Linked DNA regions of Homo sapiens. The protein of the gene in region 3 purifies or fractionates together with the protein of the main gene of each other region. This does not show direct contact. Each region holds a gene or a part of one and is shown on either strand. Other genes may lie near its edges. The genes, in order: BORA, PCDH7 and RBPJL.

What was found.
Region 1: the proteins of RBPJL (region 3) and BORA purify together in Homo sapiens (affinity purification with mass spectrometry; one large-scale study listed by BioGRID and IntAct). This does not show direct contact.
Region 2: the proteins of RBPJL (region 3) and PCDH7 purify together in Homo sapiens (affinity purification with mass spectrometry; one large-scale study listed by BioGRID and IntAct). This does not show direct contact.

Annotation. Positions count from the first base shown.
Region 1 is NC_000013.11:72,744,774-72,748,429, reverse strand, and holds part of BORA (protein aurora borealis), read right to left. Parts: intron 3,450-3,656; coding exon 3,223-3,449; intron 2,487-3,222; coding exon 2,354-2,486; intron 1,930-2,353; coding exon 1,319-1,929; intron 1-1,318. UniProt on the Homo sapiens protein: Required for the activation of AURKA at the onset of mitosis.
Region 2 is NC_000004.12:30,919,320-30,922,975, reverse strand, and holds part of PCDH7 (protocadherin-7 isoform d precursor), read right to left. Parts: intron 2,824-3,656; coding exon 2,607-2,823; intron 1-2,606.
Region 3 is NC_000020.11:45,313,299-45,316,954, forward strand, and holds part of RBPJL (recombining binding protein suppressor of hairless-like protein), read left to right. Parts: intron 1-169; coding exon 170-307; intron 308-736; coding exon 737-846; intron 847-1,114; coding exon 1,115-1,267; intron 1,268-2,888; coding exon 2,889-3,044; intron 3,045-3,178; coding exon 3,179-3,282; coding exon of another isoform or gene 3,283-3,292; intron 3,293-3,387; coding exon 3,388-3,656. UniProt on the Homo sapiens protein: Putative transcription factor, which cooperates with EBNA2 to activate transcription.

The DNA.
Region 1 (3,656 bases), on a different chromosome or scaffold from region 3:
TTAAATGAATTAATAAAGTGGTTAGAAGAGTGCCTGGTATATCAAAACACTATGTGCGTATTAGCTATTATTATAAGTCAGTATTAACTTTTGGATTAAAGAACATGGACTCTAAAGCCAGACTGCTGGGATCAAATCTCAGCTCTTCCACTTACTAGTTGTATAGAAACTTTAGGTAATTTACTTAACCTCTCTGACCCTCAGTTTCCTCATCTGTAAAACAGGGATAACAGTACACATACCTCACAGGATTGCTGTAAAAATTCAACAAAGTAAAACATGTAAAGGTCTCAGAATAGGACTTGGCACATAGTAATGCTACGTTAGTGTTAGATGTTATTGCTATCCCCTTCTGACTAAAGTCAGAACTTCTAAAGAAGTTCCTTCAAAATTCTCAGCTCAAAGAACACAACAATGAATGGAACAAATGCCTTTCCAAAGTGCTAATTATGAAGTATACGTATCTGTTAAATGAATCAGGTTTTCCTGTTGTCAGAGACATTGCAAAATTGGAAATGTATAATTTCATGAAAAATGTTGCTATAAATCATGTTTCTAAAAGAAAAGCACAAAAATGCATACATAAAAGAACTCTAAGGCCAGGCGCGGTGGCTCATGCCTATAATCCCAGCACTTTGGGAGGCTGAGGTGGGCGGATCAACTGAGGTCATGAGTTCGAGACCAGCCTGGCCAACATAGCTAAATCCTATCTCTACAAAAATACAAAAATTAGCCAGGTGTGGTGACGCACACCTGTAGTCCCAGCTACTCAGGAGGCTGAGGCAGGAGAATTGCTTGAACCCAGAAGGTGGAGGTTGCACTGAGCCAAGATCACACCACTGCACTCCAGCCTGGGTGACAGAGTGAGACCCCATCTCAAAAAAAAAACCAGTGCTCTAAACTCTTTTTATCCCCCCTAAATCACATAAAGGAAAAACAAAAATGATTTTATTTTTAGAATGCAAATACTATACCAGACCTTGCATGTTTTGGGGGACTGGATCCACATGAAACAGTGATGAATCCTGCCTGACTCTAGCAGGATTGATTTCTCTAGAGCAGGCTAATTTCTTTTCTGCTCTTACCTTTTCCTACTCCATACAAATATCAGTTAATGTGAATATAAAATATGCCTTATCTGTCATAATTAAAATAAATTTACTCTTCTCATATCACTTGGTATTAATATTTTTAAAAAATATTATATAATACTGTAGTCCTCATGTTTAATCCATTATCTTTCTTATACTATAATCTTAGAAAGGATAAAGAACACCAAGGCAGTGAGGAAGGGGCTATAGAATATTAAATACCTTACCTGAATGTTACTGCTTTCACAAGGAATGACACTGCTTTCAGCAAGAGGTGACATGCACATATGAGAGTTTTCAATACTGAAGGCAATGCCACTTACAAAATCAGTCATGGGTAAACTGCCATTATCAACCGGCTCCTTAATCCAAGTGGTCTCATCTGCTATCTCTATAGGATCAACCATATCCACAGTGTTATTGTCTTTCTCCCTTTCAACATCCTGCAACAGTGCTAATTCTTTCTCAGAAGCACTGGACTGATTTTGTGTAACAGACATGGCAGTCACAACCAAATGTGTACCATGGGTAGAAGCCTCATTACTAAACTGCCGTAGGTGTATTCCAGCAGCATCCATGGCGGGTGATGAGACATCTGTGGAAGGAATATTCTCTTTATCTTCCTCATCTTCACCTTGAGTCTCAAGAGTAAAAGGTATCTGAATCACTGAGGTCCGATACTGAGTACCACCACTATACATCTGAAGTCTCATAGGAGACCAATTTTTAATTGGCGAGCAGCCATCTATATAAGGACTTCTGATACACGGATTAGTTATCCCATTAGAATTTGTTCCAGATGAAGCATCAGGAGAATGAACAGTAAACTTCCTTTGTTCTGAAAGGTGGGAAGGGAAAAAAAATCACATCATAAAAACATGAAAATGGAAAAGTCACTACTAAATGGTAATCATGTTTCATGCCAGGAAAAACTGCATTTCTGTAACAGTTGTGTTGTTTACCAAAGTGAAATTGTGATGTCAAAAACAATAGCACAAATGGAAATTGCTAAATTTCCTTTGATAGTGTTTGATGTAAATATTGCTAATTAAAGTAACTATATTTAACACTACAGTACAAACTGGTGAGAATTCCAGCCTTTGAAGGTAAACTGTTCTTTTATTTAAAAATCAAAGTTCCTAAATGTTAGAAGGTTAGTGATCATTTTGAGCTCTATCATTAAGACAAATTAAAAGAACCTCTCTAATAACAAATATTGATAGTATAAAACTTTTAACTAGGTATTTTATTATGAGACATACCTGAGAGTGGAGTCTCTCCTATCTGAAATTCAATTGGTGAGAAAGTGGGTGAAGAAATAGGCGAAGGACTAGTTATGCTTCCCAAGCTGTATTTTTTTGCACTAGCCTGAATAGGGCTAGAAGAAAACTGCCCCTGTAATAAAATTAAATAGTAAATAAATGTATATGGTTCTCTTCCTTAACTCTTATGCTGCATGCTATTTATCATGGTCTTCAAAACACACTTATAAACTAGTAATAGTTCACGAGAACCACCAAAAGACACCTTGCAACAAAGACAACTAAGAAGATTGCTACAAAAATTCTGAAATAGTATCAAATATGTTAGTCAAAATATAAACACATTGTATTTGAACAAACCATTAAGTTTCACACTAAGCAACCATCTGTGAAAAATTTTTAAATTTATTAATGCCAAGCCAGTTGTATTATACTGTAAATCTCACACACTTTAGTAAATAACCTATGCTGAATTTCCTTGAGACTCATGATAAATCTGGTCATCCTGTACATATCTAAATACAAAATTGAAGAGTCTGACCTAAAACATCCCTATGACTAATGATAACATACGAACTAGAGTTAGTTTCTGTGAAGCATAATACTCAAAAGACAACCATCCCTCCTTCTGAAAGCAATCTGGGCAGCTCACAGGGGTGTCCAAGGGAGAGAATACAGTCATGAGTTCTTAGTTTCTGTTTCTGGTTAGGCCAGTAAAGGCCCTTCCTCATCCCTCTTTTCCACTTATTTACTAGAGACAGAAAGCAACCATGGCTTCAGGCTGCTGAAAGCCTAAGATAGAACAACAACAAAATGTGGGTTCAAGCTTGACAGCATATTAGCCAACTGCTTTTTAGTATACTTCTCACCGAACTTGGTGTCTGCAAGGGGCTCCTACACTTTACAGGAGACAAATCTATTGAATAAAACATCTCTAGTGATGTTTGAACACCACTGTGAGGACTTCCGGGAGAAGCCGAAGGTAAGGAGTCGGAGATGCTTCCGTTCCCATCTAAAAACAGCTTTCTTCTGAGGGATGAAGAACTGAGGTTTCCAGGAGATTGATCTGCAAATTCATCAGCTCTAAAATAGTCACCTATATTTAATAATAGGAGAAAAGGCAAAGCTAGTCATTTTAAAGGGCAATTATACTTCTGTTACTCAACTTTTAAGAAGCCAGCATGCACTATGTTTGAATTTTTTCCCAAAAAGAGGGCAAAGTTTAATTGCATATTTGATGTTTTACATCTTAAATTATTCCTTAGTTTTTAAGTGCTACATTGTTAGTATAATATCAATAAAA
Region 2 (3,656 bases), on a different chromosome or scaffold from region 3:
GTCAGAATGATCCATTAATACTGAAGATGAAATTACCAGAATTTAAGCAACACAATTGCACTTTATGGCTAGATGAGTAGTCTGAAAACACGGACCCAACAAATTTGTTACTCAAAGGTCAACTGCTACATTTAGATCAGCCACAGTGCATCGCATCTCATTTTGTCATTACCTATAGATCAAGGCTAACATGAATCACAGCCAGTAGATGACAAATGGTCATATAAACTCTGACTTTCAAGTGTTGGTCACATACAAAATCAGGAAAGATCCGTTACATTATCATGACCCTTGCTTTTGACAGGCCTTAAAAACTTGGTTCTAAAAAAGAATTAAAAGTCGTTTTTTGGAACTCTTTCTCAGTATACTTTATATTTTATTAACAAGCTCACCTGTTAAGTTTTCCATGACATGTGTGTTTCCTAAAAGGTAACCGATATGTGTTTGTCATATATAATTATCTTTTAATTATTCATCATTTCTTTCTTATTTTAAAGGTGATGAATCCCCATAAACTCATAAAACAGAAACTAACATTAAAAAATGATTATAATGCCAGTGGTGCAAAGTCCTTTTTTAATAAAGCTGACATCCAAAAAATAAAGATTTAATTGTACATTCTGTGCTTTACAGTAAGAATAAGCACTTTTAAAAACACAAACAAAATTATATGTTCTCATGAACAGGTAATCTCAGATGTAGTAATACCCCTAAATTAAATTAATCCTGCCTTCCTAGGTATGCTCTATTTATCATCTATCTATATTAAAAATACTGTAATTACATACATATGTACATATAAGTAATTATATGTACTATATACATATTATATATTACATATATCACACATACGTAATTACACGTTACACATATGTAACGTAATACACTATAGTACATGTGACTACATACATGCAATTACATGTGGCTACATACATGTAATTACATAATTATCTTTTAATTATTCATCACTTATTTCTTATTTTAAAGGTGATGAATCCCCATAAACTCATAAAACAGAAACTAACATTGAAAAATGATTATAATGCCAGGGGTACAAAGTCCTTTTTTAATAAAGCTGACATCCAAATTACATATGTAATTACATAGTATGTATGTAATTACAGTATTTTTAGTTTAATTTCTTTTTCCAAATAATTTTAAACATATCTGCCTTAAATATATATTCATCAGCATTGCAATTCATACCAAAATTATATGCCCATTAAAAAAATTACTAAAAAAAATGTAACTCTTAGAAACCACACCAGACTCCCATCCACATAAGCACACACCACCATACACACAGATAAGCATGCTTTTATAGCCATAAGGCAAAATGCCATTTTAACTCTGCAAAATTAATCAAGAGGGACGTCAATCATCAGACCCTGATATCATATTTTCTTAACCAAGAACAATGTGGATAAATAATTATTTAGCATAATATAATTTAGCAATACTTTCATTTGGGGTCCTTTATAATATATTATATTCTAATATTGGATTTTAATATTCATAGGTAAACTTACAGAAGAAAATCAGTCTTTCTCCTGCATTAATATGCTCTACTTGCATATATATCAGCACTAAAGAAACGGATATATAACAAAAAGTTAGAGCGTCTTATGTCACTCGGGGGTTGAGATGGCAAAAGACATAAATCCACTGCAAGTTTTACTAGGGATAAAATGTGTGTGATTCCTTTCCTTTCTCTCTGTTTAACCATCTCTCTCTTCATATTTGAAAGAATAATGAAGTTAGGATGAATTTTACCATTCCATTATTTGACACAAACCTATTCCTCAGGCATTTACTTATGACTCAAAATCCAGAAAATAAATCACCAAATTATCTCTGGGAATATAAACAAATGTGGAAAGTTTTATAAGTGCTATTTGCAATCTAAATGTATAACTTAAAAGAAAATGTATACAAGGCCAATTGTGGTAATTATGAGAATCACCTCAAAACAGTATAAAAATATGGAGTATTATGATTTATTTTCCTTCCTTTCTCTCACATAAAAATAAAAAAAAACCTTATACTTGAATAGGAGGGAAATTCTAATAGCATTTATTGCATACTATGGAGAACAAAGTAGTACTGTTCTCTTTTGACCCTATTCAGTGATCATAGGAAAGGAGAGGTTTGAAAATGCTTTTCTAAACATCTAGGACAAGAAAAGGTAGAGCAAGGTATGTTTCTTTCATTTCCTTTCACTAAGACTGGACAGCTGCAATTGAAGAAATAGTTGCATGACAAAAATGAATAGAAGAAAACAATTAGACAAGACCTTTCTTGGTGACTATTGTTTAGGAATTCTGCACTTATTTAGCTTCCTTCATAGTGGGCCCTGTTCTGATTTATTTATAAGTGCGTTTATTTCTGACAGGATGTTTTAAAATGATGGTGCAATTTGGGTGAATTTTATCTACAGAGTTATGTTCCTTTATTTGGCATTTCTGTATTTTAGCAAATATTTATCACTTAAAATAAAATGGTTTTAATGTCAGCTATTTTATTTTGGTTTTAGACTGACCTTCGCGAGTCTACTTATTACGGCTCACTAGCGTGATTATGTGTGTGGATGTTGTGTTTGCCCCTACCATTTTCCATATGCTCTGCCTCACCAACACTGCCATCCGGCGTGGTCCTTTCATAGTTGTCCTCTGGGAGTGGAAGCGCACCCAGTCTTGGCCCTGATGAACTCTTACTGCTTGGTGTTTCTGACTCCTCCAGCCCGCTGTCATAGCAACTCTGCAGTGACCCCTGATGTGGGTCCTGAGGCTGACTCACAACAGAAAACGTCACTCTACGAAATGGCTGCAAAAGAAAAGATTCTGAATGTCACTACGATGTAAGATTGTAAATGATCTTATTTTAAAAAATACATAAATTACATACATTAAGGTCTACTGGCAACTAATTCAATACAAAATGAATAGATATGTTGAAACTGCATTAGTTAACTATGTATTATCTAAGGCAATGTCTAGAGCTTAGATTTTATTATGGAAAAACTGGAAATTCCCTTTCAGAAACAGAGATAAAAAAACAGTAATTTCACTAAAACATACATTTAAATCTGATATGTTAGTTCCACATATTCAACCTTTTTCTATTCTATAGTATTCACTTCAGATATGCTTTCCAGAAATGGCCTCTAAAAAAACAAGGTCAGTGATTTGTGAAGGCAGTAAATATTGAACTAATCCATTGTAAGAAGACTCAATTTTTAAATACTTTGTCCATATCATACAAAGCTATAAAATCAAATGGGTTGGCAGTTGACTTAAACTGTTCAAAGTACAGCTGACAAATAGGAATTTAGATGCAGTGCTAGGAAACACAAATATGTTTATTACATCATTCCTATAAAAATATTGCCTATGGACCTTGAAATTGTAAGAGTCATATTGCAATAATAGATAAAAGTATCCCTAAACAGTGAGTAGGAAATAAACTATAAAGTTTAATTGTATGTTCTTAATATTACTGTTTGTGATTCGTTCAATAAAGTAAAATCATGTACAGCCTTTAATTTGTTTTTAAAAAATTTTATGAAACTATCCAGTTGAACTCCACAATTTACTATGTTACTGACAATGGCTGGACTGAAGATTTACTATGGAAGGTATTTGCAGATTATCTTGGTT
Region 3 (3,656 bases):
TAATCCTAATCCTTACCCTCACCCTCACTCTAACCCTCACCCTAATCCTAACCCTCACCCTCACCCTAACCCTCACCCTAACCCTAACCCCAATCCTAACCCTAACCCTATCCCCTCACCCTAACCCTGACCCTCACCCTCACCCTAACCCTGACCCTCACCCTCACAGTGTGCATATCCTCCGGCTCAAAGGTCTCCCTCTTCAACCGCCTGCGCTCTCAGACGGTCTCCACACGCTACCTCTCTGTGGAGGATGGGGCCTTTGTGGCCAGTGCACGACAGTGGGCTGCCTTCACGCTCCACCTGGGTAATGACATCTGCAGGCCCTGGAGCTGGGCACTTCACATGCATTAGCTTATTTAACCTCCACCACAACTCCTTAAGGAAGGTAAACTCTGCCCCATGTGATTAAGGCTCAGAAACACAAAAAGACTTGACTACAGTCCCAGTGAGCTGGTGACTGTTCCAAGCTATTCTGACTCCCTTATCCATGCCCTTTCCCCATATATCAACTAAGCTGCCTGCCCCCAACCCCTGCCCCCAGGGCAGACATTTGTGAGGATGGCCTCAAATGGCCTCTCCAGAATTAGAACCTTCAGTTGGCTCCCCTGAGTACCAAGCTTTCCCGCAGGGCCCATGTGTGATGTGAGGAAGAGCCAGAGGCAACAAGGCAGGGTTTAAGGCAGAAGCTTGGGGGCCGCTGAAAACCTTGTCCCTTGCTTTTTTTGTCCCCCAGCTGATGGGCACTCTGCCCAAGGAGACTTCCCACCGCGAGAGGGCTACGTTCGCTATGGCTCCCTGGTGCAGCTCGTCTGCACGGTCACCGGCATCACACTACCTCCCATGGTATAGGAAGGGAGGGCATGCCTGGAGGGGTCCCCTCAGATCCATGCAGAGAATGTGGCACACACGGGCAGGGCTGGAGAGTGAGGCCCCAAGGCATGGAGACACCTGTTCTCACCCAGTGTCGCGTAGGACCAGACAGAAGTCAAAGGGCAGGGGGAATCTGCTAGTGCCTGTGTGGCTATTGGAGTAGCAGACAGCCGGCTAGGAGGGCAGCCTCTGGACGCCCGGGCTCCTTGCCACCACTGTTCTTACCATCCTTCCATTGCAGATCATCCGTAAAGTAGCAAAACAGTGTGCGCTCCTTGATGTGGATGAGCCCATCTCCCAGCTGCACAAGTGTGCATTCCAGTTTCCAGGCAGTCCCCCAGGAGGGGGTGGCACCTACTTATGCCTTGCCACAGAGAAGGTGGTGCAATTTCAGGTAAGAAGCAGAGAATACCAGCACCAAGTGTCCTGGAAAGGGAGAATGCAGAGAACCACAGAATGTAAGATCATCACCCTCACCATGGTTGCTACTTCCTGAGCAGCCTCCCATGGAACATTAAAATCATAGACTCCCAGGACAGAATCATAGGATGTAGAAAAATAGTAATAAGTAATAGTATGAAGCAATATTCCTTCCCAAAGAATTTTAGAGTCATAAAATATTGGGATATAGCCAGGTGCGGTGGCTCATGCCTGTAATCCCAGCACTTTGCGAGGCTGAGGTGGGCAGAACACCTGAGGTCAGGAGTTCGAGACTAGACTGGCCAACATGGTGAAATCCCATCTCTACTAAAAATACAAAAATTAGCTGGGCATGGCAGTGGGCGCCTGTAATCTCAGCTACTCAGGAGGCTGAGGCAGGAGAATTGCTTGAACCTGAGAGGTGGAGGTTGCAGTGAGCCAGGATCACACCATTGCACTCCAGCCTGGGTGACAAGAGCAAGACTCCATCTCAAAAAAAGTAAGTAAATAAATTGGGATATAAAATTGTAGGATGTAAATAAAAATCATGATAGGTAATAGAGAGCAGAGAATTAATGAGCAAAGACTATTCGAAGCACAGATAAAGACACAGAATGTGGAAAATTATAGAATGTGGAAAATAATAATTATCGTTAAGCAGTAGTACTCCCAAAAGAATATTATCATAGAATGTTACGAGATAGAATTATAATATGTGGAAAATAGCAAGTATTATTCCTTCCCCAAGAATATTCCTTCCCAAAGAATATTAAAATTGTAGATTATTAGAGCATAGAATTGCACAATGTTAAAAAAAAAAAAATTCTGGAATCCCAAGAAAAAAGACCCTTAGAAATCAGCTATCCCAGGCCGGGCCAATGGCTCATGCCTGTAGTCACAATACTTTGGGAGGCTGAGGCAGGAGGATCACGAGGCCAGGAGTTTGAGACCAGCCTGGCCAACATGGTGAAACCCTGTCTCTACTAAAAATACAAAAAAATTATTTGGGCGTGGTGGCTGGCACCTGTAATCCCAGCTACCCGGGCGCCTGAGGCAGGAGAATCATTTGAACCCGGGAGGCGGAGGTTGCAATGAGCCAAGATCAGGCCATTGCACTCCAGCCTGGGCGACAGAGCGAGATTCAGTCTCAAAAAAAAAAAAAGGAAGAAAGGAAGGAAGGAAGGAAGAAGAGAGAAAGAGAGAGAGAGAAAGAAAAAGAAAGAAAGAAAGAAAAGAAAGAGAAAGAAAAGAAAAAGAGAAAGGGAAAGAAAGAAAAGGAAGGAAGGAAAGAAAGAAAAAGAAAGAAAGGAAAAAAGAGAGAGAAAGGGAAAGAAAAAGAAAAGGAAGGAAGGAAGGAAAATAAAGAAAAAAGAAAGAAGAAAGAAGAAAGAAGAAATCAGCTAGCTCAACAAGCTTTCTTAACGCTAAGTGAGAGAACTTAAGGGCACTGTCCAAGCTGAGGGGACAAGTGAACCCCAGAGCCTAGGATTAGTATCCAGTTCGGTCTAACGCAGAAGCCCACGCGCCATGCTGGCTCCCTACACTGGTGGCCACCATGAGAAGCTTCGGCCTCGTCCCCTTGGGTCTCCTCCCAGGCCTCTCCCTGCCCCAAGGAGGCGAACAGGGCTCTGCTTAACGACAGCTCTTGCTGGACCATCATCGGCACCGAGTCGGTGGAATTTTCCTTCAGCACCAGCCTGGCGTGTACCCTGGAGCCGGTCACTCCGGTGCCTCTCATCAGCACCCTAGAGGTGAAGCCGGGCGCTAGGGGCGTTGGGCAGGGGGACCCTGCCTGCACTGGGCAGTGGTGGTGCTAGTGAGTGGGGGGCAGCGGGTTCCCGCCCTACTTGGTTCTCTCACCTCACCTGGTCCCACCCTCCCCCAGCTGAGCGGCGGGGGCGACGTGGCCACGCTGGAGCTCCACGGAGAGAACTTCCACGCGGGGCTCAAGGTGTGGTTTGGGGACGTGGAGGCAGAAACCATGTACAGGTACGGGGTGGTGAGGCAGCCTCTCTTGGGCCCCGGGGAGCAGGGGAAGGGGGTGCACGCGTCGTCGGAGTCGCCGCAGCCCTCACCCTGGTGCTCCACCCCCAGGAGCCCGCGGTCCCTGGTGTGCGTGGTGCCGGACGTGGCGGCCTTCTGCAGCGACTGGCGCTGGCTGCGCGCTCCCATCACAATCCCCATGAGCCTGGTGCGCGCCGACGGGCTCTTCTACCCTAGTGCCTTCTCCTTCACCTACACCCCGGAATACAGCGTGCGGCCGGGTCACCCCGGCGTCCCCGAGCCCGCCACCGACGCCGACGCGCTCCTGGAGAGCATCCATCAGGAGTTCACGCGCACCAACTTCCACCTCTTCATCCAGA